2 separate regions of the Homo sapiens genome follow, and region 2 is linked to region 1. The links come from fine-mapping of genetic effects on plasma protein levels. Region 1 holds a variant in brackets. A gene starts in the other region. All regions are shown on their reverse strands.

Region 1 (16,083 bases):
ATGTGATCCGCCCACCTTGGCCTCCCAAAGTGCTGGGATTATAGGCGTGAGCCACCGCGCCCGGCCGGCACCTGTGGATTTTTATAGTAGCTAGTGATTGTTTTGCTCATAAAATGCTGGGGCCAGAAGGAACCACATCTTATAATATATATTTGTTTCTAAAGTTGACATCTATTTATTAAATATTTAAATATTTTTAAAATATATATTGAAATATTAAAACATGTATATATAATATATACTTATATATTTAAATATAATAAAATTTAAATATAAATATATGTTAAATATAAAACAAATATATTTAAATATTTACAAACATTTAAACAGTATACCCCCATAGGTACCCACTTACTTGTAAAATAGGAAACTTTTGAAAAACCAAGGGAAGTTCTCATCTTGCTTGTCAGGACACTCACTAAACTGCAGGGGAGGAGAATGCGAGTCTGTGGGCCTGTCTCTGAAACTATGGGTCCAGGGCATTCCCACTAAACACAGCCGTATTTCTGAACTGAACTATATGAATATTCACCCGAAGTGGGGAAGAGAAGGACCATAAGTAACTTCATGTCAATTCAGGCCAGCTTTTGTCACCAAGTGAGTCCATGCCAAATTTACAAAAAAATTGCCAGTTTTCAGAGTTTCCTGGATTTCAGTATTGTTGTAAGGGGTTGTGGGCTTATGTATTTTTTAAAAAGATGTTTTGACTCCGTCTCTAGAATTTAAATGGCAATTAGCTCCTCTGCTGGTCATGTTCTCATGTTCTCTCATGTAGACATATGCCTGGTGTAGTGAAAGGTCTTATTTTGTTGGATGGATGGATGGATGGATGGATGGATGGATGGATGGGCAGGCCGATGGAATATACACTGGGAATTAGAGAAAAAACTGAAAACCACCTACTTGCTTCTTGGAAACTCTAAGATCAGCAAAAGGATTCTCCCAGGAAAAAAAATATAGGGGAAGACCCAGAATGAAGTGGGCGAAAGGGATAAGGGTAGGTGAAGGAGGAGTGGCAAAAGGTCCAGAGAGAGGCCCTAACAGGCCTATAGGGAACTGGAGCCTGGGAAGCTCTGGACTGGCTTAGGATTCTAAGCTCTTCTCTGCAGAAAACATCTATCCAGCTGCCTGCTGGGTACATCCAGGTGGATTCTGACAGGCACCTTAAACTTAAGGTGGCCAAGCTGAGCCTGTCATAGTCCCCCCAGATCTACTCCTCCCAAAGCACCCCCCAAACTCGTTGGTACATATCAACTCACTTCTTCCCATTACTCAGGCCAAACCTCAGGACTGTCCTTGACTCCTCTCTCCCAAGCCATCAGCAAATCCTGTTGACTCCACCTTCAGTAGTTCCCCAGAACCTGACCATGCCTCGCCACCTCCACTGCCAGCCCCTCTGGTCCCAGCCACCAGCATCTAGCCCGGATGATTCCACCACTGGTGCTCGGCAGTCTCTCAGCCCAGCAGCCAGACGGGGCCTGTTAACCCTGGGAGAGGCGGCGTCATGTTAAGTTCTACTTCATACCCCTCAGCTCGAAACCCTCCGATGGCTCCCATCTCATCTGCAGCAAAAGCCAAAGTCACCCCTAACTCCACTCCCCGCCAAGCCTAATACCTCTTTGACCTCATCGCCAAGCTAGATGCCTTCCCTCACTGCACTTCCACCCTGCTGGCCTCTGGAAGCTCATTCCAGCTCTGCCTGGAAAGCTCTTTGCCCAGGTATTTGGAGGGCTGGCTCTCCGACTTTCTTCAGGCCTTTTCTCAGATGTCACCAGGCCACCCACTTGAGAATGGGTGCTCTCAGCCTCCTTCCCTGCTTTCTCTGTCTCCTTAGCATTTATTCCTATATAACACACCATAAGTTATACGTATTTATTGTATTATCACTGTCCTCTTGTTAGAATGTCAGCTCAGTAAGGGCAGGAACTTCTGTTTTATTAACTTCTTTTTTTTTTTTTTTTGTGAGACGGAGTCTCACTCTGTCACCAGGCTGGAGTGTAGTGGTGCAATCTCGGCTCACTGCAACCTCTGACACCCAGGTTCAAGCAATTTTTCTGCCTCAGCCTCCTGAGTAGCTGGGATTACAGGCACGTGCCACAACGCTCAGCTAATTGTTGTATTTTTAGTAGAGACAGGGTTTCACCATGCTGGCCAAGATGGTCTCGATCTCCTGACCTCATGATCTGCCCACCTCGGCCTCCCAAAGTGCTGGGATTACAGGCATGAGCTGTTTTATTAACTTCTATATCCCCAGGGCTGAGAAGAATTTTGGTGCTGAGTAGGCAATTGAGAAATATTTGTGAAATGAATAAACAAATGGTTTCCTTGACACTTATGGGGAAAGCATATGTAGAAATGAAGAGTTGAGAGCTGCATTGGGTGTGGTGGCTCACACCTGCAATCTCAGCTACCTGGGAGGCTAGGGCAGGAGGATCGCTTGAACCCAGGAGTTTGAGACCAGCCTGGGCAACATAGCGACACCCTGCCCTTAAAAATTTTTTTTTTTTTTTTGAGATGGAGTCTCACTCTGTTGCCCAGGCTGGAGTGCAGTGGCACCATCTCAGCTCACTGCAAGCTCCACCTCCCAGGTTCAGGCCATTCTCCTGCCTCAGCCTCCCGAGTAGCTGGGACTACAGGCATCCACCACCACAACTGGCTAATTTTTTGTATTTTTAGTAGAGACGGGGTTTCACCGTGTTAGCCAGGATGGTCTCGATCTCCTGACCTCATGATCCGCCCACCTCAGCCTCCCAAAGTGCTGGGATTACAGGCGTGAACCACCGCACCCGGCCAAAAAAATTTTTTTTAAATTAAGAATTGCTCATAGGTACCTTAAGTTCATATTGCCATCTCTGAGTCAGTAGAGCCCAAATTGGATGAATCTGGATGAATGGGGCAGGGGAAAGAGGAAAGGAAAAGTTGCAGGTCATAGTGCTGGGTGTTGCAGACCAGGGCTTTGGGGCACAGCAGAGAAGGAGTTAAATTGTGGTGCCACCGTTTATTAGCTTAGTGGCTCTGGGGCAAGGTTTGACATCTGTGAAATCGATAATAATAGCTCGTGTGGTTGCTATATTAGAAATAATTTCTATAAGCTATTTAGCACAGGGGCTGGCATCTAATAGGTGCTCAGAAAAAAGTAACTGTTGTTATTATTATTATTATTAGGATGAAGCAAATAAGTAGTAAGTGGCCTGGGATGATCAGTTTTTTACTGTGGTTTCCTGACCAGGACCAAATGCTAAGGAGGCGTTTAGTACATACATCTTGCTTGACTGAGTGGTCGGCCTCATGCTGTCTGTTTTAGGGTAGGAAATTCCCTTAAATTAACCTAGAAACTCATGGGTACTAATATGTCCCTCTGCAAACATAAGTGCTTCGTAAGAACAAAAACAGCACGAAAAGTTGTTGGAGTCCTACATCTTGGTTGTGGCATGGGTCCCTCTGAAATGACTCCCCAAACATCACATTTATGATGAGTTTTGGGGAGTGGCCAGCTCTACAGATGAGAACATTTTAAGACTGGTTTCCCTTCTCTGTTATCACTGGCTCTTGGATGCCAACACAGTCAGAGTCTGGAAATGAGCCACTTGGAGCCGGGGACTGGCCTGGTCTTCGTGCCAGGACTTGAGTTGGGCCCTTAGGAGCAGACGGCCTGGCCTTGCTGCACCTCAGTTGTTTTTTCCTGAAAGTGCATTCCTGTTTTATGATACATAGGTCTTGCATGTTTGAAAACCCTGTTGTATGCCCTGGCAATTCCTTATTCTTATTTTTAATGTTTGTGAATTCCATGACTTTCTAAAAAGTACAGTTGACTTGCCACTGCCTGTAGATGATACATAAAGCAGATAGATTTTAAATGCTGTCAGTCCATTTACACCTGCTACAGTCCATGTTTCAAAGTGGAGAAAAAGCTGAAAAGCCATTAAAAATATGTAGAACTTACATGTAATGGTCCAATATAGTGATTATTTGTCATTTATTACATAATGAAGCCCAGATGTGCTATATATGGTAAGCCTATTTCTACTAAGATCTCTGCAGTTTTTTTGGACGTGTGTGCATGTGTTTGTGTATATGTCTGAGACTGGGGGATGGGTAATTCATAATAAAAAACGAGATGAAGTCTCGCTCTCTTGTCCAGGCTGGAGTGCAGCCTCAAACTCCTGGGCTCAAGCAATCCTCCTGCCTCAGCCTCTCAAGTAGCTGAGATTATAGATGTGAGCCACTGTGCCTGGCCATAAGAGGCTTCTTGTATTTGAACTTGGCTGAAAAATTGAACAGTAGAGACAAAAAAGCAAGGCCGTGTGATGCGGACTGGGCTCCTGGCGTCCAGCAGTTTTTAAGGAGGTGACAGTTGAGCTGAGACTGAAATGAGGAGAGGGAACCAGCGCTGTGGGGTTCAGAAGGAAGAGCCTTCCAGGAAGGGGGCAGCAGGTACAAAGGTCCTGCAGTTGTGTGGCTGATGCCTGGCGAGCAAAGCAAGGAGAGGCAGAAGAGGCAGGGGCAACCTGCAGGGCCTTGGAGGCCATGGGCAAAGTTTGGATGCTATTCGAAGTATAAACTGGATCATTGGTAGAGTTCACATCAGCCGGTACCTGTCAGATCAAAGGTGTCCAGTCATTTACCGGAAGACCTGCTTTTCAGACTCCTGACATTTGTTCATCATTCATTCATACAATCTTCATTCATTCATCCTTCATTCATTTATTCATTGCCTATTTTGAGTAAAGTGCTATCCTATCCAGTTACAAAGACCAAAGACCAACAAGGAAGAGGAGTCAGTATCAAATAGGCTTTGCTAGATGTTTCTACAGGGCACAGAGGGCAGACAAAGTGGGGAGGCCAGCTGTCCCTGGAGCTGAGGAAAGGTCTGAAAAGAGGATGTGGATCTGAACTGCATCTTGAGAATAGTGTTCTGCAGGCAGCAGATGGGGGAGAGGGGTGTGGCCATGTTTTCAGGACTGGGCGGCCCATGTTTTCATGTCCCCGTGAATGTGATGACTATACACTATATAAGTGGAATCATAGAGTATTTGTGTTTCCGTGACTGGATTATTTCACTTAGCACAATGTCTTCAAGGCTTATCCATGCTGTAGCATGCATCAGAATTTCCTTCCTTTTTAAGGCTAAAGAATATTCCATTGCATGGATATGCCACATTGTGTTTCCCCATTCATCCATGGATGAACACTTGGGTGGTTTCCACCTTACAGCTATTGTGAACCATGCTAAGCAGAGATCTCAAAGGGACTCTTAGGTAGAGGGAGAACCTGGACAGAGGCTCAAAAGGCAAAGGAGGAAATAACTTCAAGAACTGAGCACCATGAAGAGTGAGATCCAATGGCAACCAGAAAGATTAGACTTGCCCAAGTCCCATGTGAAAAAGGATTGGGTCCCCACAGAAAGGCAGAAGGCTTGACTCATGAACGCCTGTCTCCTGGAAAACTGTTGAAATTATACCAATGATATAGAAGTCCATTCCTAAAGCTGCAACAGCACTTAATTATACTTTTTTAAAAATGCAAACTGTTTATCTTTTAGAAACTGTGCCATGTTTCCAAGGATACATTTCTGTCCAAAAGGTGATCTGTGGGGAAAGGCCTTAGAAGCAGTTTCCAAAAAAATTACCAGCCCACAAAAATGTATGCGGGCTCCACCCAGGCCAGTGGAAACCCAAAGAAAATAACACGAAGGCCTTTTTCCCACCTCTCCTGTCCTTCTCAGAATACATACAGACAGATGTAGCCTGCCTTGAGAAAAAATATATTTGGAATTCCAGACCCACTGAAAACAGACTAAAAGATGTGCTTCTGATTTTAAAAGGAATTATTCGTTTTCTTGAAGAATTCACCCTACTAGGGACTTCAGTGAGGAGCTCTCTGGGGTCTCCATCCATTTCTTTAGAAAATATTTGTGGGCCTGAAATATCAAACATCTGAGGAGCTTATAATTAGTTAAGCATTTACGTGTATTAATATATCGTCATGTGGACAGTTGAGAGGGGAGAAGGCACTAGACAAATTTAAAATTGTTAGAAACCATTGGCAACTGATATTCAGAGCCTAAGTTAAAAGCAGGATATGTCTCAGGAGCAAATCTTTTGTGTAAATCCTGGTATTTTTACTGCAGACCTTTAAAATGACAGACGCGGGTGAGTAAAAATTACTTCTGGAAATGGATATGATTAATTAATTCAATTAATTAATTCAATTAAATCAATATAATTCAATTAATTAATTCAATTAAATCAATATAATTCAATTAATTGCCAGCCTTGGTTCACACTGATGAGTGTGCTCATTGGAGAGACTCAGCATGCAAAAGAAAAGACTCATCAATTTGCAGTTATTTAATTTCACGAACTGCCGGATGGTGGAGTCAGTAGCAGCGGCTGGGCCGCAACATGGCGCCTCCCACCTAGACTTCCGGTCAGGAAACTTCCACCTTCCTCCGATTTACGTGGGCCTGCATGAGCCTACTTCTCTTCTTATTCTAGTGCCAGTGGCCTCTGGAGTCTTGGTCCTTCTTACTGGAAGTAGCCCTCCTCTCCTGTTACAGAGGCAATAATTCTCCAGCCTTCCGGTCGCCGCCAAAGCCTCCTGCCTAATCACTTCCTGTATTGTCTCCCTGCGGCTCTTTGCACAGACCTTGGGCTC[T/C]GTCGTCTCTGGATTCTTACTGATCTCTTCCTCTTCTCCCAACCGCCTTGTCATGTCTCTTTGAGCTATGTCAGGAGGAACGGAAGGGCACTTTCTTACTACTTTTGTTAGCCAAACGGACAAACTGTCCCCTCCCCTTTGTTGTAACCACACATTCAAGGCTTCCTTCAGTCCAGCCCCATCTCCCTTTTCGTTGCCTCCCTTTCACTACTCCAAATGAGCTTGCCATACTTTAAACGGGTCTTGTACTTTCTTATCCCTTCTCTGGAATGTCATTTCTACTGAAGAAAATCCTACTCTTCCCTCAAGACCCTTCTTTAATCCCCTCTTGCCATGGAAACTTGAGATTTTCATTGAGGAGCTAAGTTGGAAAATATAAACTAGAGCTGAGTCTCTACCCTGGCACTATTGACATTTGGGGCCAGATTATTCTTGGTTGGGGAGACTGTTCTGTGCACTGTAGGATGTGGAGCAGCCTCCCAGGCCTCTACCTGCCAAAAGCACACTCCCCTTTCCCCAAGTGGTGACAACCAACTGTTTCCAGACATTGCCAGATGTCCTGAGGTGGGAGTGAGGGTGAACAGAATTGCCTCCCAGCTGGGGGCTGCTGGACTAATCAACAAGAAGTGGCAAGGACTGCAGGCAAATTGCCTCAGCACTTAGATTTAGCACTGCAAGGCCACTTCGACAGGTGGTAGTGATTTGTGCGTCTCATTTCCTATTCTTGATTGTGACAAGGTTCTGGAGGATGGAGACAGCTACCCCTGCCACAGTTCCCACAGGCTATGTTGTACATAGGGCTTCATATTTAACATGTGAGTGAATGAAACACATGAGCCCGAGTGCTCTTCAGGACGGCAAGGCCTACATCAAGATGGTAAACCTTCAGTTCTTAAAAAAAAAAAAATCACGCAGCCCGTGCCTGAGATCCAATAACCTTCAAACTCCATGTTTTCGATTTGATCTCAATTAACATTCCAGCTCTTTCAATATGTACTTTTCCTTTACCAAATTTCAAAAGAAATTTTAATCAAAGACCCCTACTGTTAATTAATTTCCCTTTTTACCCAGCCAAAATTGCAAATGAAGTTCTTTTTCCAGAAAGTTCGGGGAGCGGGGAGGGGTTTTATAACAGAGCTGCTGCTGAGTCTCATTGCTAGGAGCTGAGTACACAGTGGAGAATATGAAATCCCGAATTCTATGTCCCAGCCCATTGCAGTGGCTTGATTTGTCTCTTGTTTTGCTTTGGAACTTTTCAAAGATTTCACTCTGTTAAAAAGTCAATTTGGAACAAATATAGAGCTGTTATGTCTATTAGAATTGTTTCAGCAACGAAATGTGGCACTCAGCATTTGTTGAACCAATGAATTCTCCTTTTTGCTCTGAGGGAAAGCAAGGTTATAGGGCAAGTTGTATTTTAACCCTTAGCTTTTTTTTTTTTTTTTTTTTTTTTTTTTGTGGTTCAAGCAGTTTGTGAAAGATTTGAAAGCTGCATACATTTGGGGTCACCCCAAAAAGTCAGCCCTGGGCCACGAGCAGTGGCAGAGGAAGCAGTTACAGAGAATTAACAGAGTTACATAAAATTTACTCACTTTGTAGGCAAATATTTCTAACCTTGGCTCCCTTTCTTAAAGATCTATTTCCCCAGCTTTGTTCCCCAGCTCAAAAGCATTTCCCAACACGTGGATCTGCTACCACTGGATCTGCCAAAGCAGAATCCTCTTTTTTTTTTCCAGTTCTTTTTTAGGCCTTCCCAGTAGGCTGAGGAGAAAGTCTCTCGTGGGTGTTAAGGTATCTTTAACCCCTCTATAACACTCCTGACCTCTCACGTTTAACGAAGAACAGACTTCAAAACTTGAGAGCTGAGTGTTAAAGAAAAATAGTAAATGGTAGTATTGGTGGTCCTGGAATGTGCTAAAACCACCAAAGAGACACTGACTCAAGATCATTGCCCAGGTGGCTCTGACGAACTTGGACGAAAACGCATCTCACTGAAGTCTCTATCTTGCGGCCTCTTTACAGGTGTTATTATCAGCCAAGCACCCACTGCGCTGTCTCGGTGCAGGGAGAGCCCCCATTTCTCAAGTTCCCGCAATGTAGCCCCACATTTCTAGTTAGACCAGTAACAGTTCTCATCAGGAGGAGAGGTCGTTTTTAATGCAAGTCAAAATATAAACCACTGAGGCTGGGATAAACTTCAGGGGTAGCAAAGTTCTTTTATTGTTTCCAAATAGACACTCTGGAATAAATTATACATTTAGTTGTCTGGTTACAAAGCTCATAGATAAAATCATGTATGACGTCATTTATCGAGTCATTCACCTTCTCTGATCTATATAAGAATGTTCAATGCTGTGTGATAACATTTTTGATTCTTGTATAAGAAAAGAAGAAAGAGGGTTTTTCAAGAACAGCAGAGAGTGTTACGTTGGCCACAGAATCAAGCAAATGGGCAAAAAAAGCAGCCCTCAGTAAGGAGTAGCCAGACTTTAAAAGTAGTGCCTGTTAGATCACCAAGGTTATGTTTTAAAAATAAAGGGAACCTGGCACAGTGGCTCATGCCTGTAATCCCAACACTTTGGGAGGCTGAGGTAGGAGGATAGCTTGAGGCCAGGAATTCAAGACCAGCCTGGGCAACATAACAAGACTCTGTCTCCACACACAAAAAATTAATTAGCTGGGCCTGGTGGTGCACACTTGTAGTCCCAGCTACTCAGGAGGCTGAGGTGGAAGGATTACTTGAGCCCACGAGTTACTTGAGCCGTGTTTGCACCACTGCACTCCAGCCTGGGTGAGAGGGTGAGACCTGTCTCTAAAATAATAATAATAATTAATAATAATAAAGGGTTGCCATGATGTTACCCATGGGTACATACTATGTGCCTGGTGTATTACATGTATTACTTCTAATCCTTGTAAAAGCCCGGTGGAATTGGAATGATGATCACGCCCTCAGAAGGGTAAAGATATCTTAATGCATGTCTCAGTCCTTTGGGCAGGTAGCTGAGGAATCTTTCCTGCCGCTAAACTCCATGCAATTTGCCTTTCTCCTTAGTTGCTTCCCCTCTTTGTTGCTTCAGAAAGGGTTGGGCCCAGGGTCTAGGAAGAAAGGCAAGGCCCAAGTGAAAGAGAGATGTGTGGGTCCCAGCCTGGGCACCCTGCTCTTGCCAGAAACCCGAGTAGCCTGGACCGCTCGTTCTTCCTCCCCAGGGTCTAGTCCAAGGCTGTAGATGGAGCTGTCTCCTCTGTTGCCCAGTGTTGAAGGCTAGGGGTCATCTCATCCTCTCCCCACTCTGCTTCACCCCCACTAACCCACTGCCCTCTTTTCTACTCACTACTTCCTATAGGTCCCACCACCCAAACTGGTCTTGTATTGATTCTTCCCTTTCTGTTTCTGATTATACTGTTCCAGTTCAGACCCTCTCATGCAGGACTGTTAAAGTAAACTTCCGATTTCTTCCCTTAGATGAAGGGTATGGTGCTGGTCCTCTTGTTCTGTGTTCTTCCAAATCTGGTGCTTCCAGCTGCCCTCAACAATGGCCTTAAGATGGTGGGGGACCCTGGGAGGGGGAGACCACATGATATGGTGGAACATCATGGAATACCAGGAGTGCGTTGAATTAAATCATGTGAACTCATATTTTATTAATGCAACATGATTAAATTATAAGAAACGAGGCCAGGTGCAGTGCCTTACGCCTGTAATCCCAGCACTTTGGGAGGCCAAGGTGGGCGGATCACGAGGTCAGGAGATCGAGACCATCCTGGCTAACATGGTGAAACCCCGTCTCTACTAAAAATATAAAAAATTAGTCGGGCATGGTGGTGGGCGCCTGTAGTCCCAGCTACTCGGGAGGCTGAGGCAGGAGAATGGCATGAACCCGGGGGGCGGAGCTTGCAGTGAGCCGAGATCGCGCCACTGCACTCCAGCCTGGGAGACAGAGCAAGACTCCATCTCAAAACAAAACAAAACAAAACAAAACAAAACAAAAAACAAAAACGAGAGTGTGCGCAGTATCAACTATGAGCATACATTCTTTAAAACTGCTGTTGATTGGGTGAGACAGACTGGTACAGGGCTTCCCAATAATGTGAAACCTGCAGGGTATCACATTAGTTTTTGTTTTGTTGTTGGCTACTCTTCATTAGCAAATAAGAGGAAATATCTACCAAGGGTTTAAGAAATATTGGTAGGGAAAATGTTTTAAATTCGAGGAACCTATTCAATAAATATTTCTGCAGATTGGCGCAAGTGCCATTATTTTATTTGAGCAGTGCCTTTATTTTATTTGAGCAAAGGAAGCCCACAGGATGTTTTAGTATTCCAAGGAAGTGGGGATCAGCAAACATTCTCTATAAAGGGCTAGATAGTAAATGTTTTAGCTTTTGAGGCCCAGATGGTCACTATCTCAACTACTCAGCTCTCCCGATGGAGCTTGAAAGCAGATGTAGACAACATGTGAGAGCTTGGGCCTGGCCGTGTGCCAATCAAACTTTATTTATGGATGCTGAAATGTGAATTTCATGTAATTTTCATGCATCACAGAATATTTTGATTTTGATTTTTTTCTAACCACTTCAAAATGTAAAAGCCATTCTTAGCTCATGGGCCATACACAAACAGGCTAGCGGCTGGGCCAGATTTGGGTGGTGGGCGGTAGTTTCCTGACCTCTGCCCCTGTGGTGCAGTCCAGGGGCTCTGACTCGCATTCGTAGACTTTCTCCAAGTGGTCCATCCTATTTCCCCCTTTATTCCCCGAGCTCCACCCAGCTTGGTCTCTTGACCCCTTCCCTGCCCCACACACCCTCCCCTTGTTTACACCTCTGCCTGATTTTCCCTACCCCACCTCCAGCAGGGTCCAGGACGGGATGCTGCCCAGACTCCCCTGCCCCATTGTTTATGGTACCCTGTTCCATCTGGAGTCTGCACCTGTTACCTTTTGCCACGTAAGGAATTATCTGTGTATGTCTCCTTTTCTTTCTCACCCCATCCATGCAAAACCCTTGAGGATAGAGGCCATGTCTAACTGTATTTGTGGGACACCAAATAGAGTAATTATTTGTCAAAATTACATGAGTTCTTACTAGATAGAGATCACATCTACATCTAAAAATCATTTTGCTTACTTTCTAGTAAAATAGAATCTCTTAAAATATTTGTGAATTCTTAAACTTATCCTGAGATGATTTATTCTAAGTGTCTTCTAGATCATTACCGGCCAATAAAGAAACATAACACAAGCCACGTGTGAAATTTGCAATTTTCTAGTAGCCGCATTTTATTTATTTGTTTTTATTTATTTATTTATTTGAGATGGAGTCTTGCTCTGTCGCCCAGGCTGGAGTGCGGTGGCGCGATCTCGGCTCACTGCAAGCTCTGCCTCCTGGGTTCACACCATTCTCCTGCCTCAGCCTCCCGAGTAACTGGGACCATGCCTGGCTAATTTTTTGTATTTTTAGTAGAGACGGGGTTTCACCATGTTAGCCAGGATGGTCTCAATCTCCTGACCTCGTGATCCACCCGCCTCAGCCTCCCAAAGGGCTAGGATTACAGGCATGAGCCACTGCACCTGGCCTAGTAGCTGCATTTTAAAAAGTAAAAAGAGACAAGTGAAAGTAATTTAATAATACATTTCATCCAATGAACTGTATTGAAAATATTCATTTCAATATATAACCTATATGAAAAATTATTGTCGAGATATTTCACATTCTTTTTTGTGTGCTAAGTCTTAGAAATGTTAGTTCGGACCAGCCCCATTTCAGGTGCTCAGCAGCCACGTGTGGCCCTGGCTTCTATACCGACTGCACAGGTAAAGGTGTTAAAGTCAAAGCAGGCACAAGTTTTAAGTCAACTCTTCCTTTTAAAAGGTGACCACTATATTGGCTACTTACTGGCGTGCAGATACTTCATAGCCGTGAAAACATAAGGTCACTGACAAAGTCTGAGTAGCGTGGGTCCACCTGACCTCAGCGTTGTCCATTTTCTAAAGTGATCATCACTGGACTTTGAAACACAGGTGGTGCCCTCCAAGCCACCTGAGTGATCTGTCCCCAGAATTCCCTAGTGACCATTTCAGGACTTTGGGATCCTGTGTGTAGTCCCCATAATTCTGACTGCTTCTCTTTTACATTATAAAAGTCTTACGTTTTCATCATTAAAAAAAAATCCAAATTGTAAAAAAGAAAAAAAGAGCCTCTGGCTGCTTCTTCCTCTCTCCTCTGCCCCTCCCACCACTAAGAAAAGTTTGGTGTGGATGGTTTCAGATATTTCACAGGCCTGTAAAACATACATACGAATTCTTTAGTGTTTTTTGCATTGGGATGTAATTCACATGCCGCAGAATTCAGGCTCTTAATGTGTACAATTTAGTGGCTTTCAGTATATTCACAAGGTTATGCAACCATCACCACCATCTAATTCCAGAGTCATCACCCCAAAAAGACACCCTGTCCCCATTAAGCAGTCACTCCCCACCTCCCTTCCCCAGCCCCTGGCAGCCACTAAGCCACTTTCTGTCTTTGTGGATTTGCCTGTTCTGGAAACTTCATGAAAATGGAATCATATAGTAAGTAGCCTTTTGTGACTGGCTGTTTTTAGCATGATGTTCTCAAGGTTCATCCACCTTGTACCACGTGTTGGTGCTTCATTCCTTTTCATGGCTGGACTAATAGGGTTTTTTTGTGTGTTTTTTTTTTCTTCTTCAAAAAAGAGATCTTATTTTTCTCACTTTTCTGCCACCTGCTCTTTTACCTAATATTTAGCCTGTATCTTTCCTTATCACTTTCTACTGTGTTTGTGCTTCATTCTTTCTACTAATGGTCTGATATTCCACTCCTGTCCTAAGTACTTACTTAGCCTTTTATTCTATTTTATTTTATTTTTTTGAGACAGAGTCTTGCTCTGTCGCCCAGGCTGGAGTGCAGTGGCACAATCCCGGCTCACTGCAACCTCTGCCTCCCGGGTTCAAGCAATTCTCGTGCCTCAGCCTCCAGAGTAGCTGGGATTACAGGCATGTGCCACCACGCCCGGCAAATTTTTTGTATTTTAGTAGAGACGGGGTTTCACCATGTTGGCCAGGCTGGCCTCGAACTCCTGAGCTCAGGCAATCTGCCCCACTCAACCTCTCAAAGTGCTAGGACTGCAGGCATGAACCACCGCACCCGGCCTTAGTTATTTATTTATAGGCATTTTGGTTATACCTTCCACTTTACCGCCAATGCTGCAGTAAGCACCCGTGTCCAAATATATTTGTGTACACGTGTGAGATGTTTGCCCACTCGCGGCAGGGAAATTGCTGAGCCTGATGGACTTCCTCCCCTTGGCGTTAGCTTGCCGCCACTTACATCTGCGCTCCATTCCTACTATAAAGGTGACTTTCCACTTTTGTCCTCTCCTGAAACTACGCCGCCTCCAGCAGGACCGGGGCCACCTCCTCGCCTCCCCGACACCACAGGGCCTTTTTTTTACCACATGCGTGTCCGTTGCCCTAAGTCCCCGTCCCACTCCTTGCCTCTCAGGCCAACACAAACTCTTTAGCTTCTTAACATTTCAGAGTAGCAGGTCCCGGACCCTTTGACAGCCTCGTGAAAACTTGTGTCCCCACCCTCCAGGAGAATGCACACTGAACTCACCCACAGTGTTCTGTGGGCCACTTAGGAGGTGCTCAAACCCCCTGGCAGCCTCTCCCTCCCCCGGCCCCTCCTCTGGAACGTGTTCCCTGTCAGCTTAGCTCTGCCTATCCTACAGTCCACGTGTGACTGACTCAGCCTCATTCTGTCACCGTGAGCTGCGCCCATGCTCGCGTGTGCCTCTTGGGGAGGCCTGGCTGCTGGGCTGGTTTGCGCAGCCACAAGCTCATGCTTGTCGCCCTTGACTCCTGCGCGGACTCGAGCCTAGCAACGGCCTGCCCCGCCCCTCTGAATTCCCTCTGGACGCGTGGCTGTAAACTCTGCTACCTTTATTCTCCAGCAGAGCACTCGTTCTTCTGCCTTCTCAGCGGAAGACCTTCCTTCCAGCAGCCCAGCATGCAGCCTGCGGGGCCACCCTCCGTCCCAAGCTGCTTTCTTGGGTCATTGACCCCCTGCTGCCATGGCCCGGGTTTAGGGACTTGAGCCCCTGCTCTCTCCAGCCCGAGGAGGGAGCTCAGTTGTGCAGCCACTAGATCCTGTTCTTGAATGTCTTCCTTGCTGTTATAGTTGGCTTCTTCTTATGGTACAAATTCTTTCTCTTTAACTCTACGTAAACAATTTAAAACCAGAATTCCTGTGACCTAATCCTCGATAAAGTTATTCATTCTTAATCTGAGCTTTTCTCCTATTTTAAATTCAGTGAATCATGGTTTTCTTTTTTAACATCCTTTAAGATTTCTGAGACACCAACCTCCACAGTTTTCCTCCCCCCACTCCCGGATGTAGAATCTTCTAGAAACTCCCTGCTCCTTTATTCTCCAGGGTTAATGTTCACTGAGGGCTTGGCCCAGAAAGTCTACAATTCTCTGACTCCCAAACTGGGACATAGTCTCATTTCAGATTCCTGATTGTAAAATGCCTACCTCCCGCAGTTCATTCCTCATTCAGTCCCTCGGCTTATTCTGTTGATGGGTCTCATGTAAACACGTTTTGCGGCTTAGACTCAGAGTTCCTGAAACAGATTTCCCCACACCTACTTCTCTCCCATCACTCGAGATTTTCACAAACAGTCTGTTAGGGATCGTGTCCAACAGATATTGTTGTTTGTTACTGAAGTTTATTTCTGAAAATGTTCGAATTGTACTTTGTACGTTCTCGTGCCTAATTTTCTCATAATTATGAGAATATTGCATTTTACTTCTCCTGAGGTGAGGAATGCAGGAATGCTTTTAGTCTCTATATCATTGTTTCTCTTCGTGGCTGGCATTTGCCAGCACTCAGCGTCATCTTCTTTTTTCAATTGTGATAAAATTCACATACAATTCACCTTTTTTTTTTTTTTGAAGATAGGGTCTTGCTCTGTCGCCCAGGCTGCAGTGGGGTGGTGCGATCATGGCTTATTGCAGCCTCCACCTTCTGGGCTGGGACTATAGGTGCACGCCACCATGCCTGGCTAATTTTTTGTAGAGACAAGGTCTCACTATGTTGCCCAGGCTGGTCTCAAACTCCGGGATTCAAGCAATCCCCAGCCTCAGCCTCCCAAAGTGCTGGGTTTACAGGCATGCGCCACCACACCCAGCCCAAAATTTACCATTTTAACCACTTTAAAATGGTTTTCATTTGGTGGATTTTAGGATTTTCACAGTGTTGTGAAGCCATCATCACTCTCTAATTCCAGAACATTTCCATCACCGTGAAAAGAAACTCCATACCTATTAGAAGTCGATCACAGTCCCCTACTCCCAGCCCCTGGCAAACACCAAGTCTGCTTCTTGTCTATGTGGGTTTTCCTAT
Region 2 (16,083 bases), not on the chromosome of region 1:
AACATAGCTTTTTTCCAAAAGGAGTTCAAGATGGTGAGCACAGATTTAAAAAAGCAGTTAAGTTAGCACAAAGCTTATATACAACTGCAGACGGCCAAAGATGATACAAAGAACTTTTAATATTAAACCTGAAAATGGCTAAGATTAAAACTTAATGACACCGATTAAGAAATACACAGATCTATAGATGAAAGTCATCTATTGTCAGTTCATTAAAAAAATTGTATACATTTTGAGTTTCCTTTTTTGGCTAAAAAAAAAAAAGTGACCTTTATGATGAATCATACAGTAGATTGTATTTGTTGGTCGAAAAAGCACAATCTTTTGGTAAGCTAATTCTTTCTTGACATGTCTATATTAGAAAACTGTTAAGGATCTAGGCTATATATTAACCATCTTTCTTTCACTTCCAGTGTCTTTACATATGAAAAAATGCTCATTACTGAATTGGTCTAGCTTTCGACCAACAGTTACATTTCTCTCAAACCTGGCCTCATTTCTGTTAAAACCTAGCTGTATGCTTATTTTTAGATTTGGATGGGCATATTTCATTATAAATGCCCTTTTAAAAATTCAAAATCCATTCATGCTTTTGTGCATCCAACAAGTATTTATCAGGCTCCTAATAAATGCCAAGCAATGACAAGACTACAAAGGCAAATAAGACCCAGCCTTGCTCTGAACTTTACTTACAGACTAGAGGGAGAGACAGGCCAGGCAGCATGTCACAACTCAATGTGATGAGAGCTGTGATACGGAAGTAAAGGCTGCTGAGGAGCATGGAGAATGACCATTGCATGCAGCCTGCGATTAAGGAATATCTGAGCTAAACCCTGAAGAATGAATAGGAGATAACCTGGAAAAGTGGGTGTCCAGGGGTCTATGGGATAAGTTGGCCTGAGTTGAGAGAACAGTGTATGCAAAAACATAAAGATGGAGGTGCAGGCTGGGGAGGGGATCTACCAGTGGAGCGACAACAAGTTTTGTTGGGCCAGCTTTCACAGGTGCCACAAAGGGCTTCTGATGTCCTGTTAAGAATACCTTGGATTTTATCCTAAGAGCAGTGGGGATCCATTTTCATTTGCAATATATTTTTCCAAAAATATATAATGCTTCATCAATTGTATTGTTCTCTCAGTGCCGTATCAAGTCTTAATCAGCTTTATTCAATGCTGTTTTTGCTGTTTTCATTTCCAGTGTTTTTAAATTCTTTATATTTAAGTAAAGAAAACATATTTGTACTTTCATGGGATTAAAAAACAACTGAACTCATTTTGGTTCTCTCAATCACTCCTATTTTTCCTTGCCTCAGAGAAAGAAGCAAATAAAAAAATTCACCACTAAATTCTTCATTTGCAATCGTATGGGCATTTCTCTATGGCATTTTACTCAATATAGAATAAGTAGAGCCTGTGTAACCTCACGCAACTTAACCTCTCTGTGCCTTAGTTTATTCAACTATAAGATGACCGTTACTATCATTTACCTTATAGGATTCTTATGAGGGTTAAATGTGACACCATATGCAGTGTTTAGCATAATCCCTGAATTATAATAATTAAATTGTAGCTATTTTTGTCATTAAGCATTATTGAACAATGTACATATATGAACATGGTTAAACTTTGAATTTGTATTTTATTATAATTCTAATGGTATACACATACATATACATATATGTGTAAAGCATATATATTTACACACACTCATGTTGTACGTTGAAAGTCCTTCCAGAAACTTTTAGTAGAAGTTATCTCTGAGGCAAGGACCTAAATGATCAGGGAGGGGAGAGAATACTTAACTTTTCTCATTTTATTCCTTTCTGTAATCTTTAATTCTTTTTTAACCTTTTATAATAAAAATTGGTGAAAACCCCTGTTGTGCAAAATAATAAAAAAAAAAAACATTATTCTCAAAGCTTAGGATAATTATATGGAAATCATTTTATATAGAGAAAAAAGCATGTGGAACTTAGGTTTGATTGGCCTAGAAAAGAGGAAAATTAAGACTAAGAGAGAATTAGTACCTGTTCTCAAAAATCTGTTGTCTAAGGGCTACCATGTGAAAGAAGGATTAGACATAATTTGTATCTAGAGAACAGAAAGGCTGATTTTGCCCAAATAAAAAGAACTCTGCACTGATGAGAACAGTTCAAAGACACTGCCCCAGTAGCTAAAGCTCCATCACAGAAAGTGTCCACCATTGGCTACCTGGCCAACTTTCCGAGATTTGGTTCCAGGGATTCCCCTTCCAAATCTATGAAATCTGGCAGTCTCCAAGCATTTGAAATTTGAAACTTAAATTGACGTATCTTATTCTGTAATCCAGTAACTGGTGCATCTTTAAACGATTATCCAGAAACATCCAAACTATAACCACACATTAAATAAGTTATATAAATTGGCTGGGCACAGTGGCTCACGCCTGTAATCCCAGCACTTTGGGAGGCTGAGGCAGGCGGATCACCTGAGGTCAGGAGTCCAAGACCAACCTGGCCAACATGGCGAAACTCCGTCTTTTCTAAAAGTACAAAAATTAGCCTGGCTGGTGGTGGGTGCCTGTAATCCCAGTTACTCAGGAGGCTGAGGCAGGGGAATTGCTTGAACTAGGAGGAAGAGGTTGCAGTGAGCCGGGATCACACCACTGCACTCCAGCCTGGGCAACAGAGTGAGACTCCGTCTCAAAAAATAAAAAAAAAATAAAAAATAAGTTATATAAATAAACTTTGCCTCCAACCTACAAGACCCTTCAATGGGCAGATATTCTTAAGAAAGGATTATTAGTACATATATGTTTATTATACTTCCATGAAGTATACAATTATCCAAACACGTATCTCATAATGTTGAAACCTGGTTCAAAATGTGGATGCTGTGTTTAAACACTAACTAAAATAGAATTTGTTAAAGGTAATTTTTGTTTCCAACCAGACTCACACTACATGGTATTTTAGCATTGTTCATTATCCTTATTCTTTTTTTTTAATATATACAATATTTTGTTTATTTATATATGTGAATTTCTATATATTTAAATATATAGAACAAAGCCTAAAAAGTGAGAATCAAAAGAGAAATCCTTACCTATCATTATACTTATTCTTTAAAAAGTATTAATATCTGTTTCCAGATTTTAATTGGACTACTCTTTTTCAGTTTGTCATTATGAACTTGGTAAATTAAGCCCAATATTGGAACACTTTAGCAGCTCAATATTGAAAGTTCTACTTTTGTGGTTCTACTTTCCCTGAAAAGTGGGGTGCACACAAGAGAAATAGGGGGTTTTCGGCATTGGGATAGTGCAGTGCCTTTGAGATATGACAGGATGACCTTTAAATGACAACCTTTTCTAGAGAATAATTTGAATGAAGAGAAAGTGAGCCAGGGAAGGCAGAGAGCTCTGGAAGTCACATCTGGCTAGGAGACTGCTCTGGTATCTACCACTTGAGAGGCTGTTGACTTAGAAAGCCATTACATTCCTCTGAACATGTACCCCTCTTTTATCTAAAAACAGGGGGGAAATCAAAGTAGATAAAAATGTTTCCATTTCAACAATCAGTTGATATTGTGTCTACCCAAAAGTTTAGTTCAATGGGGAAAAACTCAAACCTTTGAGTCAGAAGACCTAAGTCTGGCTGTCATTATCTATTCTACCTTTGATAGGTCTCCTACCACCTCTGAGAATAAGTTTCTTCATATGATAAATTGAAAGGGCAAGATACAAAGTAAAGAAAAACTGCAAATGTATTTTTATATTGTTTTCAGCCTCAACTAAAGCTCTGTGGTAAGAACAGCTCTTATGATTCCACTTTTATAAATGGGAACAGGCCAAGCATGGTGGTTCATGTCTGTAATCCGAGCACTTTGGGAGGGAGGCCGAGGTGGTCAGATCGCTTGAGCCCAGGAGTTTGAGACCAGCCTGGGCAACATGGCAAAAAACCCCATCTCTACAAAGAAAAAAAAAAAAAAAATTAGCCAGGCATGGTGGTTCATACCTGTAGTCCCAGCTACTCAAGAGGCTGAGGCAGGAGGGTCATTTGAGCCCAGGAGGTCCAGACTGCAGTGAGCCATGATCACACCACTGCACTCCAGCCTGGGCAATGGAGCAAGACCCTGTAATCACAGCACTTTGGGATGTCAAGGCGGGCAGATCACTTGAGACCAGGAGTCCGAGACCAGCCTGGCCAACATGGCAAGAGCCCGTCTCTACTAAAAATACAAAAATTAGCCGGGTGTGGTGGTGCACGCCTGTAATCCCAGCTACTTGAGGGGCTGAAACACAAGAATTGTCTGAACCCGGGAGGTGGAGGTTGCAATGAGCTGAGATCGCACCACTGCACTCCAGCCTGGGTGACAGAGCTATCTGTCTAGAAAAGAAAAGAAAAAGGTTACTAGGTTTTTCAGCGAGTAACAATAATGCAGAGGTTTGATCCCAAGTCTCCAAGCACAGACACATGCTGCTTCCCCAACCTATTTAATAAAATTCTGGGGAAATGAAATAAGAGAATTGTCCAAGTGTTCTATTATAAACAGTCTTACAAGTTTAAGGTATTATTAAGACTAAGCTTTAAATCATGTAGCGAGATGTCAACATATTTTTTCCACTCATTAATATTTCTATCAGAGCAAAAGTCCCATAAACCACTGATCCTATCCAGCATGTCACAGTACAATCAGTTGAATAAATGGGCAGATTACTGCCACTTTAGAAATGATCCATGAACTTAATTAGATATACTAAACAAATGGATATATTTACACTGCACAGGCCACACTTTGAGGATCTTAGAAGAAAGAACTATAATTAGGCAAGACATATAGTTGTACTAGTAAAAGAATCCTACTCTCAGAGTCCAATCCTTCATTCAAACCAAACAAATCATTCTCAGTTGAAAATATGCATCAAAATCATTGTAAGATACCCTGTACTTCTACAACAAAGCCACAATATTCCCCTAATAAAATATAGGAGTGAATGATGGATAAGGGGAGGAGAAAAGGAATCCCTGCAGCCTCTTCACACAACACCACTTTGATCAAGTTTAAGAATCAACTCCTGGCAATAGCACTTTAGAGATAACAATATTCTTAATGAAACACTTTCCCATCACAACAGATTATTAAAGCAATCCATTATTCTTCTCTCCACCTATTAAAAAAGTCTGATTTAGTGAAAAAGACAATCCTCAAAAATCCAGGACTTACCATAGGCTGCTCTGTGTTATAGTTACTGCCCCCACTGAGAGTCCCCTAGAGGCCAGAAGGATCTCATTCACTACTGTGTTCCCTCACAGTGCTTGGCACATAGCTGGGCTCAGAAAATGTATGTTGAACTTATTCTACAATGTAACATATTTCAAAAACCAATTTCAACTCTTAAAATAATAATCCCTATGAAAAAGGAAAACATATGTATTTCATATTTCTTTCATTTTCCTGAAGTGAGGCTCCTTCACACTCATTTGGAATATGTTTGTTTTCATTTCAATTGTTTACATGCTCACTACATGTAAACATTATTATGGTGGCATCATTCAGAGAACATGAATCTTTTTAAGATTTAAAGGAGATTACATCCAGTCAAAAGATGGATTACACTTTGATATATCACAGATTTGAAAAAACATACATTGAATAACCACATACAACATCAATAAAAAAGTCCTGCCTGGGCGCGGTGGCTCATGCCTGTAATCCCAGCACTTTGGGAGGCCGAGGCAGGCAGATCACCTGAGGTCAGGAGTTCAAGACCAGCCCGGCCAACATGGCAAAACCCCGTCTCTACTAAAAGTACAAAAATTAGCCGGGCATGGTGACAGGTGCCTGTAATCCCAGCTACTCAGGAGGCTGAGGCAGGAGAATCGCTTGAACCCGGGAAACGGAGTTTGCAGTCCGCCGAGTTCGCATCCCTGCACTCCAGCCCGGGCAACAGAGTGAGACTCCGCCTCAAAAAAAAAAAAAAAAAAAAAAAAAAACAGTCCTGAAACCATCAATCCCTTGGGGATCATTTTAGTTTTATTTAAAATGGTCTAAGAGAATGTCCCATCAATATCTTGGTTAACTTCAATAAGAGCTTCAATGAGTAGAATTTGTTTTCAGCCCAGGACATTTGAGCATCTGTGGACAATATTTCATCCCACTTTGGGACAAGGAAAATAGAAAATAATAGCCCAAGGACAGCCATTACACAATTAAAATAAACAAGCATTTGTTTGCAAAGCAGGGCATTTAAATTCAGTTTGATTTCATTACTGTTCAAACGACCCCATATGAATCTTTCCTCTGGAATCCTCAGTTGTCCAGTATTAAAGTTACCAGTGTAGAACCAACCACTGAGGACTTCAATTATAAATATCTCTGTAAACAATTCTCCGAACCTGGTTCCCTGCAGAAGTAAGCAAATAGCTATAATAATACTCCTAGTCCAACATGGATATATTAAATGACTGTTTTGCTATTGAAATCGCAAATGCCAACAGCAGTTCCAAGAGAGGACTCTAACTTGCCAAACCTTTTATAAAAGACAGTTGCAAGCCCCGATACAAAGTTTAGAGGAATTTCCTTGTCCCTACATGTAAAGGTTTATGAAATCTGTACACTCAAGCAAAAGGACAAACAAGATCAAAGCCAACACATGAAATAAATTTCATTGTGCAAACAGTAAAAGCTGTGTAAAAGAGCTCTAGATCCCAGGTTAAAAACTGCAGGAGAAAGGTAACATTAACCCTAGCAGACGGCTGAGTTAAGATGTGGCAGAGCTTTACAGAATTGCAAATAGCATCAGCATTGCAAGAATAACAATTGGAATAAATACCGTCTGCATGCTGCAAAAACAATCAACGCACATGCTCCTTCACCTCTCCCCCTCATCCAGCTGGGCAGTGAAAGCAGCTGCCTCTCCCAGCCCTCCTCCCAAGCCGTTCTTCGCCCCACCCGCTCCCCTCTCTTCTCCACCCCTCCCCTCCTCCTTCCCTCCCCCTCCCCGCCCCCAGCTGCCGTATTCAGCAGTCTAGAGAGATTAGGAGGAGCTCGCTACAGTCTCTGGGCCTCAGGACTGATCTAACGTTTCGTAGCTCCCTGGATGAGAGAAATTAGAGACTCGACACCCAGGTGGTATTAGAAGCCTTCGCCTCCAGCCCGGCTCTCTCGCAAACCGGGGCTGGGGGACCACGGGGGGGCCTCGGGCCGGGCGACTGGGAGGCTCCGGAGGCCGCGCGGGGCTCAGCGCTGCACTCCCCTCGGGCAGCGCTACCTGAGCTGTCCATGGTGCTGGCGCGGTCCGGAGGCTGTCGGGCGGGACTCCGCGCCGCTGCCCCGGCGTTCACTCTCTGCTTGCCGCCAACCCCGCCGCTTCCCGCACTTAAGTCCCCGTTACTGTCCACCAGCTGCAAAGATTCATAACCATCGTTGCTGGTCTTTTTCCGGTAGCTCCCGAGGAGGCTCATGGGCAAGCCCGGAGAAAAGAGAAAATAATCAACCTGGGAAGCGAAAAGGGAGATGGAAGGTGGAAAGGGCTGAAGAAGGAATTAAAAAAAAAAAAAAATTAAGTGCCCGACATGACGCAAAGAGGAGGGAAAAGAAGGAGCGGCCACCGGAGAGAAGCTTCGCCGGGCGAGGCGAAGCCGCCGCCCTGGGCTGAGCTCGGCTCGGGGCGCCGGGAGGAGGGAGGGAGGGAAGGAGACGCGGCCGGGCGGGGGCGCGCGTCCTCTGGGCCAACGCCGCGGAGCCGCCCGGCCCTGCCGAGCTCCGGGCCCCAGGCCAGCACCTCCTGGCTGAGGAGTGCCCGGAAGCAATCCTATAGGTGTCGCCGCGTCGCCCCGCCGCGCAGCAGGGCAGCGCCAAAGCCGCTGGCCCGCGGGGAGGGAAGGAAAGGGAGGTAGGAAGGGAGGGGAGGTTCGTGAGGAGGGGGGTTGAAGGGAAACGGGGCGGGGTGGTCGGGGGAGGGGACTACTACGACGTGGGTTGGGAGGGTGTGTTCGCACGCGTGTGACAGAGAAGAAAGGGGCGAGGTATCTCGGCCTGCGAAGCTTTGAGGACCAGGGGTCTTGTGGTAAAATCCAGACACACCCATTTCATGCAACTTAGCCTATTTTCACCGGAAGATTCCGCCAAAGCCACCAGGACGGTAACCGTCCTAGAGAACTGACTTGTAACTCAATTCAACAGAAAAAGAATGCATGTTAAGTGCCAGAATATATCTATGCTAGGATATAAAGGAAGAGCAATATTTTGCACATTCTCCAGAATAGGGATGATCCCTAAGGGAGATATCAAAGAGTTGGGTATTCTAATACTAGGAGGCAGCGTCCGTTCTGCCTAGAGAGCAGATGTGACTGTTTAGAACTCTTTGTTGAGCGAATAAACTGGGGAGAAGGGCAAGGTTAAGTCCGACGCATTTTCAGATCCGCCACCATTTACCTTAGGACCTGGAGAAAAGACTGTTTCAGTTAGCTAGCTTGAAGGCCTGCTTGGGAAGCAAGATAGACAAGGATTTTTTTTCCCCATCCTCTAGCCTCACGCCTTATTTTTCTTTCACAATTCTGGCCAAAGAAAGCAGTAACTCATAATCAGAAGAGAATTTATCATGAAGTTAATTAAGCTGTGTACCTAATTTTGTATCTGTCATCGTGTATTCTTAAAAGAAGACTCCGACATTGTATAAGTTCTGGATCTGAACAAAACCTGGATAAACTCTGGTAAGTCTTAAAATGTAATTATCGAATGTTTATTTTCACCTAAAATAATAAGATTTCAGAAGGATTGCTCATTCTCATCATCTTAGGTCAAGATCAAGTAAGTCTTGGTTAAAAATTATCATTTTCTCTACTAAAACTTGGAGGGACTAAGTGAGGCGCCCGTCAAGAGTCATTTGACAGAGTTTCCTCACCAAAACAGGAAAAAAGTACGTGCATGTAAAATGTACTTGAGCCCATACACAAAGCCAGCTTTGCTTTCTTCTCATCTTACATGGTTTTCTCTTGCTGTCCTTATATCAATCACCTAAGGACACAAAATCAAACAATAGCATCTAAGAGACTTCAGTCCAGATGATTTGGGTCTCAGAAAGTTTCCGGGAAGCTCTAGCTCTACACAGTTCTACATAAAATAAATTGGACTAAGAGACATTTTCCTGTACAAGGATCACCCAAACACAGATTCTTGTAGGAAGAGCATCAACCAGAAGAAGTCCAAAGAAATGTTTTCTAAATCCTTCCAGTCCTTCTGGGGAAACCTAAACTTCCTGGCCAGTTGCTTTCCCAACTGCATTCTTTGATGAGGTATGGTGTGACCTGAATTGCAAATCAGAGTTAATGCTCATTTATAACAAGATCAAACAATCTGAATGGTGGCAGGAAAAACTGCAATAAAAATTTTAAAACAAATTTTTATACTTTCAATTTTCCAAATCTGTCAGATTGAATTATTTTAGTTACTTGACTAAAGTAATAATTCTGTGAAGTCTAGTAAATCTTTTCCCATAACATCTTAAATAATCTTTCTCTGTACTTTTTCTTTTAATTCATTACAGACACACAGGGACAGTAAATACCTAGTGTTCATCATGTGCCCTGACAAATGCTGGACTATAATCATTGGATTAATAGAATTTAGAACCAGCCTCAGTGACAGACTGAGACCCTGTCTCAAAAAATAAATAAATAAATACAGGATCATTTTTGAAAAGTGAAAATTATTATTTTCAAAAAGAGCACTTTCAGTTATTTTTGCTCAACTTGCAGACATATTGCTGAAAGAAATTATAGATGAGACATATGCCTTTGTATTTTTCAATATCTATCTCTGGAGTTTGCAAGTGTAAAGAAAAATCTGAATGGGCTATAAGAATTTTATCTTTATACTTAATATAAATAAAGTCAATCAGGATAACTATTAATAATCCTATAAAATTGAAGATATAAGAAGCATATTAAGGCAGGAAAATACAATAACTAGGTTAATTTACAACAGCCTAAAAACTAGGGCTTGGGCCTAAATTTGGATATGCACCAATTTCAACATTAAAATTTTCTTTACTGTGCTAAAGATCAAATTCATATACTTATCAATGAATATCTCACTGTTCTACTCTATAAAACAAGCATAATATGAGTACCATCATTATATAGAAGAATTAGATTAGTACCTAACATATATATATATATATATATATAGAGAGAGAGAGAGAGAGAGAGAGAGAGAGAGAGAGAGAGAGAGAGAAACAGATTGAGAGAGAGAGTAGTACTTAACAATTGTTCTCTATTACCATTATTGGTCTGTCTTGGGTGCAGCTTTAAGCTCAGCGCCTGGCAGTCTTAGTTTTTCAAATGGGAAAAGCTCAATAAAGGCTAAATATTATTTTTTCCAGGGATATCCTAATGGAAAATTGTCTTTGTAACTTTGAATGAGAATTTGGGCTTAAGGGAGGTGGCACTGGTCAAACACAAGGTGAACATTTACAGCCTAACTCTTGGTTTTCCAAACTCAAGACTACTTCATAACTTATCTCAAAAATACTACATCATACATGAGACAACGGCAAAGGATAAGATGCCCTCTTCTGGGGACAGCAATCATTCCCTTTGTCTTTTCTCTTGCTGCCTTCAGGTGCTTTATTAACTTGATGAAGATTAGTGACACTGAGGAATACTGAGGAACCAGGCTCTATTCCACCCCATCCCCTTCATACACACCTCATTCCAAATGCTATCCTGTCACAGCAGATGCCACATCACTTTTGGGGTGGGCTAAGAGATCAAGGTATGTATGCCATGACCTATGTAGGATTTTGATCTGTGATTTTCATTTCCAGAGAATATAATACATTGATTAAAATTGAAGTTGCCAGCCAGGTGTGGTGGCTCACACCTGTGGTCCTGGCACTTTGGGAGGCTGAGGTGGGCGGATCACGAGGTCAGGAGATTGAGACCATCCTGGCTAACACGGTGAAACCCTGTATCTACTAAAAATCCAAAAAAATAACCAGGCGTGGTGGCAGGCACCTGTAGTCCCAGCTACTCAGGAGGCTGAGGCAGGAGAATCGCTTGAACCCAGGAGGTGGAGCTTGCAGTGAGCCAACAAAGCGAGACTCTGTCTCAAAAAAAAAAAAAAAAAAATTGAAGTTGCCTATGATTGATTCTTAGTTCCAATGACTCCTGGCTCTATGACTTTGGGCAAGTTACTTAACCTCTCTGCCTCATTTTTCTCCTCTGTAAAGTGAGGATTATAGTAATGCCATCATAATAAGGTTATAGTAAGAAGTAAATTAGTTCCTAACATATAATAAGTGCTTAACATATGCTATCTATTATTACTATCATTCCACTTCTTTTTAAAATGTCACTTTTTCAAAAATGCAACTTCCCATCTGTAAAATTAAGTTTAAATCTGCCCAGCTTACCTAAGAGATTTGTTATCATTATGACTATGATAACATAAAAGCAGTTTGTCAAATGTGAACTGATTGTTTTGCCCTGAGTTTTTAAATATTCACGTGTATGTATTTCCTATTGGATTTGGACTCTTTGAGGGCAAAAATCCATGTTTTGTTCATGTTTGTGTCCCCCATGACACTCCAAAGAGCACCTCGCTCTCATTAGATATTGAGTAAATATCTACTGAATTAATGAATAAACAAAAATGTCATGGCATTACCTAGTCCAGTGATTTAAACTATATGCTGTAGCCGATGAGTAAATTATAAAGTATTTTCATAAAAATGAAATAGGTTGGAAAACATCAGAGTTTGGAACGCAGTAAGATATTGTTTCTTAAAATATTGTTTTGGGTTTGTGTGATATGTATGAGTGTGTGTATGTTTCTGCTCAGTAATGATATAAATGTATTTCTCACTGTGTGTCCTGATTATAAATGTTTTTGAATGTCTATGTTATGGGACAATCTCTGGTACTAAGAGGTCCTAGTGTTCCCAATTATGAATGTCCTATACACTGTGACATCTGAATTCATTTGGCTAATTGGACCACAAAGAGTTTTGGCTAAGCAGACAGTAAATGAAGCCAGAGCTTCTACTCTGTTCTCTCTGTTACAAAATATATTATGATCAGGTTTCTAAAATGCGTCTCTTCAATTTTCTGTTTTAACAAACATAAATCAATGCACAGTATTGAAACTTACTTTGGCAATGTGCCTGAGGGCCATAATCCAGATTATCTCCTTATTGAATAAGGCCTATAGATATACATAGTGCAAGGCACTTCAACTGGGGAACATCAAGCCATCTCTGACTCCCAGATGTGTTTTGTCGGTCCTGTACTTCTTAAAATGAAAAACATTTTAGTTTAGATGCCTTTACAGAGGGTATATAGGCTCCAGTCTGAGGACCATAGTTCACTACTACTTCCCAATGTAGAATACTCAGCCTCCTCCACTCATTCCTATTACCAGTTAGCCCTTGCAGGCATTTGAGTTTGAGACCTGCAGTGTAGTGGCAAAACCTTAAGGAGAAATACCCCCAAGAGAGATGCCAAAAGACACATCTTTAGGCCACAGTCCAGAAGAAAGCAAAATAGACCGAGAATCCTCTCCTGACTCTGCTCTTAATCAGCAGGGTGGCCTTGATCCATTCTCCTTCTCTCAGCAGTAAAATCGAAGATGTGGAATTACATGATTCTCTTCAGTTCTCAAAACTTTAGTTGTCACTTCCCTCTCTCCTCCAAATGATGTCCATAGGGGAAAACCATAGTCATTTAAGTGCTACAGTTTGCTGTGTCCCAGTTAATCAAGGTTTTGCTATAGAAATGCATGCATAAATAGTAGCAGCTGTCAAGAGCGACATATAAAGCAACACACAAGATAGAAGAGGAGGTCTGCTGGAAAAAATCGGGTGAGCTGATGGATGACATTTAACAGAAGAAAATCTGAACTATTCCTATAATGTTTCTTAGGAGTGGGGATATCTGTTCTTGGTGTTTGATGGGGTTCTGGGTCTTCCAGAAAATAGGACAAATTTCCCAGGTAGGGCTTTTTTTTTTTCTTTAAGATAACCCAATATCATGAAACCTGTGTTTCCTTGATGCTCTAATAGTAACAAAATAACTGCCATTGATTATTTATCATTTGCCAGGTGCCTTACCTACCTTAAATCTAAAGATTTTATTCTTATTTTGAGGCAGACTTGGAGAGGTTAAGTAACTGGCCCAGGGTTACACAACAATCAGTTAGGATTCAAACCTCCATCTTTCTGATCATGCTTTGGCCACTGAGGCAGCCTAAAGAGGCAATTCCACTGATCAAAGTGAAAGCTGAAGGACATTTAGGTCATTCCTTAGATCTGACCTGCCTTACTAAGTGTGGTCAGTGGAAAATGGTTTGGGCAACTTATGGAAATTGCACTTTGGGAGGCTGAGGCAGGCAGATCACCTGAGGTCGGGAGTTCGAGACCAGCCTGGCCAACATGGTGAAACCCCGTCTCTACTAAAAAACAAACAAACAAACAAACAAAAAATTAGCTGGGCATGGTGCCACGTGCCTGTAGCTCCAGCTACTCAGGAGGCTGAGGCAAGAGAATCACTTGAACCTGGGAGGCAGAGGTTGCAGTGAGCCGAGATCATGCCACTGCACTCCAGCCTGGGTGACAGAGGGAGACTCCGTCTCAAAAAAAAAAAAGAAGAGAGAATCAAATGAGGCGCATGGAAGCACATAATAAACACTAAAGCCCTAAATACTGCATGTTATCAAATCTAAGAAACCATCCATTTTAAGTCACAACATAAGAAAAATATGCTACTAAAGAAAGTATGACATACTATCAATCTTAAGATACCCCAAGATTTCTTAAATGTTAATATGTTAAAAAACTTTTATAACCGATGTAACAAATGTTATTATTTGACCGTATATTAGTCTGAGAATATATTTGTCAATTTATTATTCACGTATTTTGAGCAACTCTGGCAGGTGAAGACAACACCCATCATGTTTTATGAGGTCTAGCACAGTGCCTGCCAAGTAATAGGTGTTCAGTAAGTATCTGCTAATTGAATGAAAATACCAAAAAACTTTATTTTGGAAGCCATCTTTAGTTTACAGAAAAAATCGCTCTGGTTTCTTTAATGAGCTCACTTAAAAAACACATTTCCATTTGCTAACATTTAACTTATCCTTGACTTTTCAAGGACATGCTCATAGTATAACAACGTTTGCCTTAGTTCATTTTGTGCTGCTATAATAGAATACAGGAGACTGGGTAATTCACAAAGAGCAGAGATTTATTTCTTACAGTTTCTGGGGCCAGAAAGTCCAAGATCAAGGAGCCTACATCTGGTGAGGGCCTTCGTGCTGCATCATCCCATGATAGAAGGCAGGAAGGCAAGAGAGGATAAGAAAGGAAGAGACAGGCCGGGCGCGGTGGCTCACGCCTGTAATCCCAGCACTTTGGGAGGCCGAGGCGGGTGGATCATGAGGTCAGGAGATCGAGACCATCCTGGCTAACAAGGTGAAACCCCGTCTCTACTAAAAATACAAAAAATTAGCCGGGCGCGGTGGCGGGCGCCTGTAGTCCCAGCTACTCGGGAGGCTGAGGCAGGAGAATGGCGTGAACCCGGGAAGCGGAGCTTGCAGTGAGCCGAGATTGCGCCACTGCAGTCCGCAGTCCGGCCTGGGCGACAGAGCGAGACTCCGTCTCAAAAAAAAAAAAAAAAAAAAAAAGAAAGGAAGAGACAGCAAGGGGGTTAAGGGGGAGGCAAACTCCCTTTAATCAAGAGTGCACTCCCATAGTAATGGCATTAATCCATTCATGAGGGTGGACCCCTTATGGCCTAATCACCTGTTAATGGTACCACCTATTACTGTCAGAATGGCAATTAAATTTCAACATGAGTTGTGGAGGGGATATTCAAACCACAGCAATGTTATACTGTAACATATATATTATATATATTATATATTATATTATATAATATATAATATATATAATATTATATATTAATATATCAATATAATAGTATATTATATTGATATAATATATTAATGTATATATTAACATAATATATAAATGTATAATATAATATATAATAAATATATATAATACGTATTATATATATTTTTTATATATATATATATATTATATATTATATATATAATATATATAATACGTATTATATATAAAATCCACAGTTCCTGTATAACTCCCATAGCCCTCGACATAGTAAACAAAACCTCTTTCTCTTTCTCTCCCTCTCTCTCTCTCTCTCTCTGATGTTCTACCTCCCTACTTTCACCTGTCCAAGGCAGGACTCTTATCTGATTGTGGGTCATAAGACCCTCATCCCAGAGGGTGTCCTGCCCCATCCCTGGGGGAAGAAATGCTGCACAGAGAAGACAAACAGAGTCTAAACAGGCCTTATTGGGTTTAGATCATATACTTTTTGTCCATGAATCACATTTTAACACAGTTGTCCATGCTTCAATCATGCCTACCCAATGAAGTCTTCATACAAGGCCCAAGAGGACAGGGTTTGGGGACCTTCCAGATAGCTAAGTGGAGGTTCCTGGAGGATGGTGCACCCAGAGAGGGCATGGCAGCTTGGCATCCCTTTCCTTGTATCTTTGTAATATCCTTTATTATAACCCAATAAACGTGTTTCCCTGAGTTCTGTGAGCCGCTCCAGCAAATTAATCAACCCAAAGAGGGGATCATGGGAACCCAAACTTGAATCTGGTCGATCAGAAGTTTTAGAGGCCCAGACTTGCAACTGGTGTCTGAAAGTGGAGGTGGTAGGTTGGGGGAGCAGTTTTGGGGACTGTGTCAGTGGTATCTGACACTTATCTCCTGGTAGATAGTTTCAGAATTGGAGGACACGCAGCTGGTGTCCACTGCAGAATTGATTGTTTGTTTGTGGGGGGGGAAGTGCCCATTTGATCACAGAAGCCTTTAATTTGTGTTGATTTTTGTTGTGAGAAAATAAGAAAAGGCACTTTGAGTGTGTTTTTCCACACACAGATACACCTACATTACCATTTCAAGAGCAACTCATGGAAGCATCAGTCCTTTTCATCTGTCATTTTACAAGTAGGAAAACTTCAGCTTCTCAAGTGGGCTGGTTCTGTGATCGACTTCTCTCAG

Direction of the effects. Positions count from the first base shown, and alleles are read on the strand shown. Strength reflects both the effect of a copy and how common the allele is.
With allele C in place of T in region 1, the plasma level of the protein whose gene starts at base 7,647 in region 2 is lower (moderate association).

The links. PIP is the chance, under the fine-mapping model, that this variant and not a neighbour inherited with it causes the effect. The UK Biobank Pharma Proteomics Project read protein levels with antibody pairs (Olink). The fine-mapping took linkage between variants from a reference panel, not from the people measured, so its PIPs are less certain.
Region 2: DNAJC6 starts here. The variant in region 1 is fine-mapped to the plasma level of the DNAJC6 protein (UK Biobank, PIP above 0.99).

What each region holds. Positions count from the first base shown.
Region 1 is chr19:6,090,997-6,107,079 of GRCh38, reverse strand. All of the region lies in intron 1 of RFX2 (regulatory factor X2), which reads left to right. Among named protein-coding and RNA genes, the nearest start is that of RFX2, 11 kb to the left of the region's middle. RefSeq lists an enhancer at 13,803-14,508. The variant T/C (reference allele first, on the strand shown) is at 6,658.
Region 2 is chr1:65,301,107-65,317,189 of GRCh38, reverse strand. DNAJC6 (DnaJ heat shock protein family (Hsp40) member C6) reads right to left here and starts at 7,647. Exons shown (of 19, transcript NM_001256864.2): 1 at 7,252-7,647. The coding sequence starts at 7,444. It overlaps DNAJC6-AS1 (DNAJC6 antisense RNA 1), which reads left to right and starts at 7,956. Exons shown (of 3, transcript XR_007066155.1): 1 at 7,956-8,695; 2 at 10,605-10,757. It overlaps LOC112268227 (a long non-coding RNA gene), which reads right to left and starts at 5,946. Exons shown (of 2, transcript XR_002958317.2): 1 at 1,042-5,946. RefSeq lists a silencer at 13,417-13,595.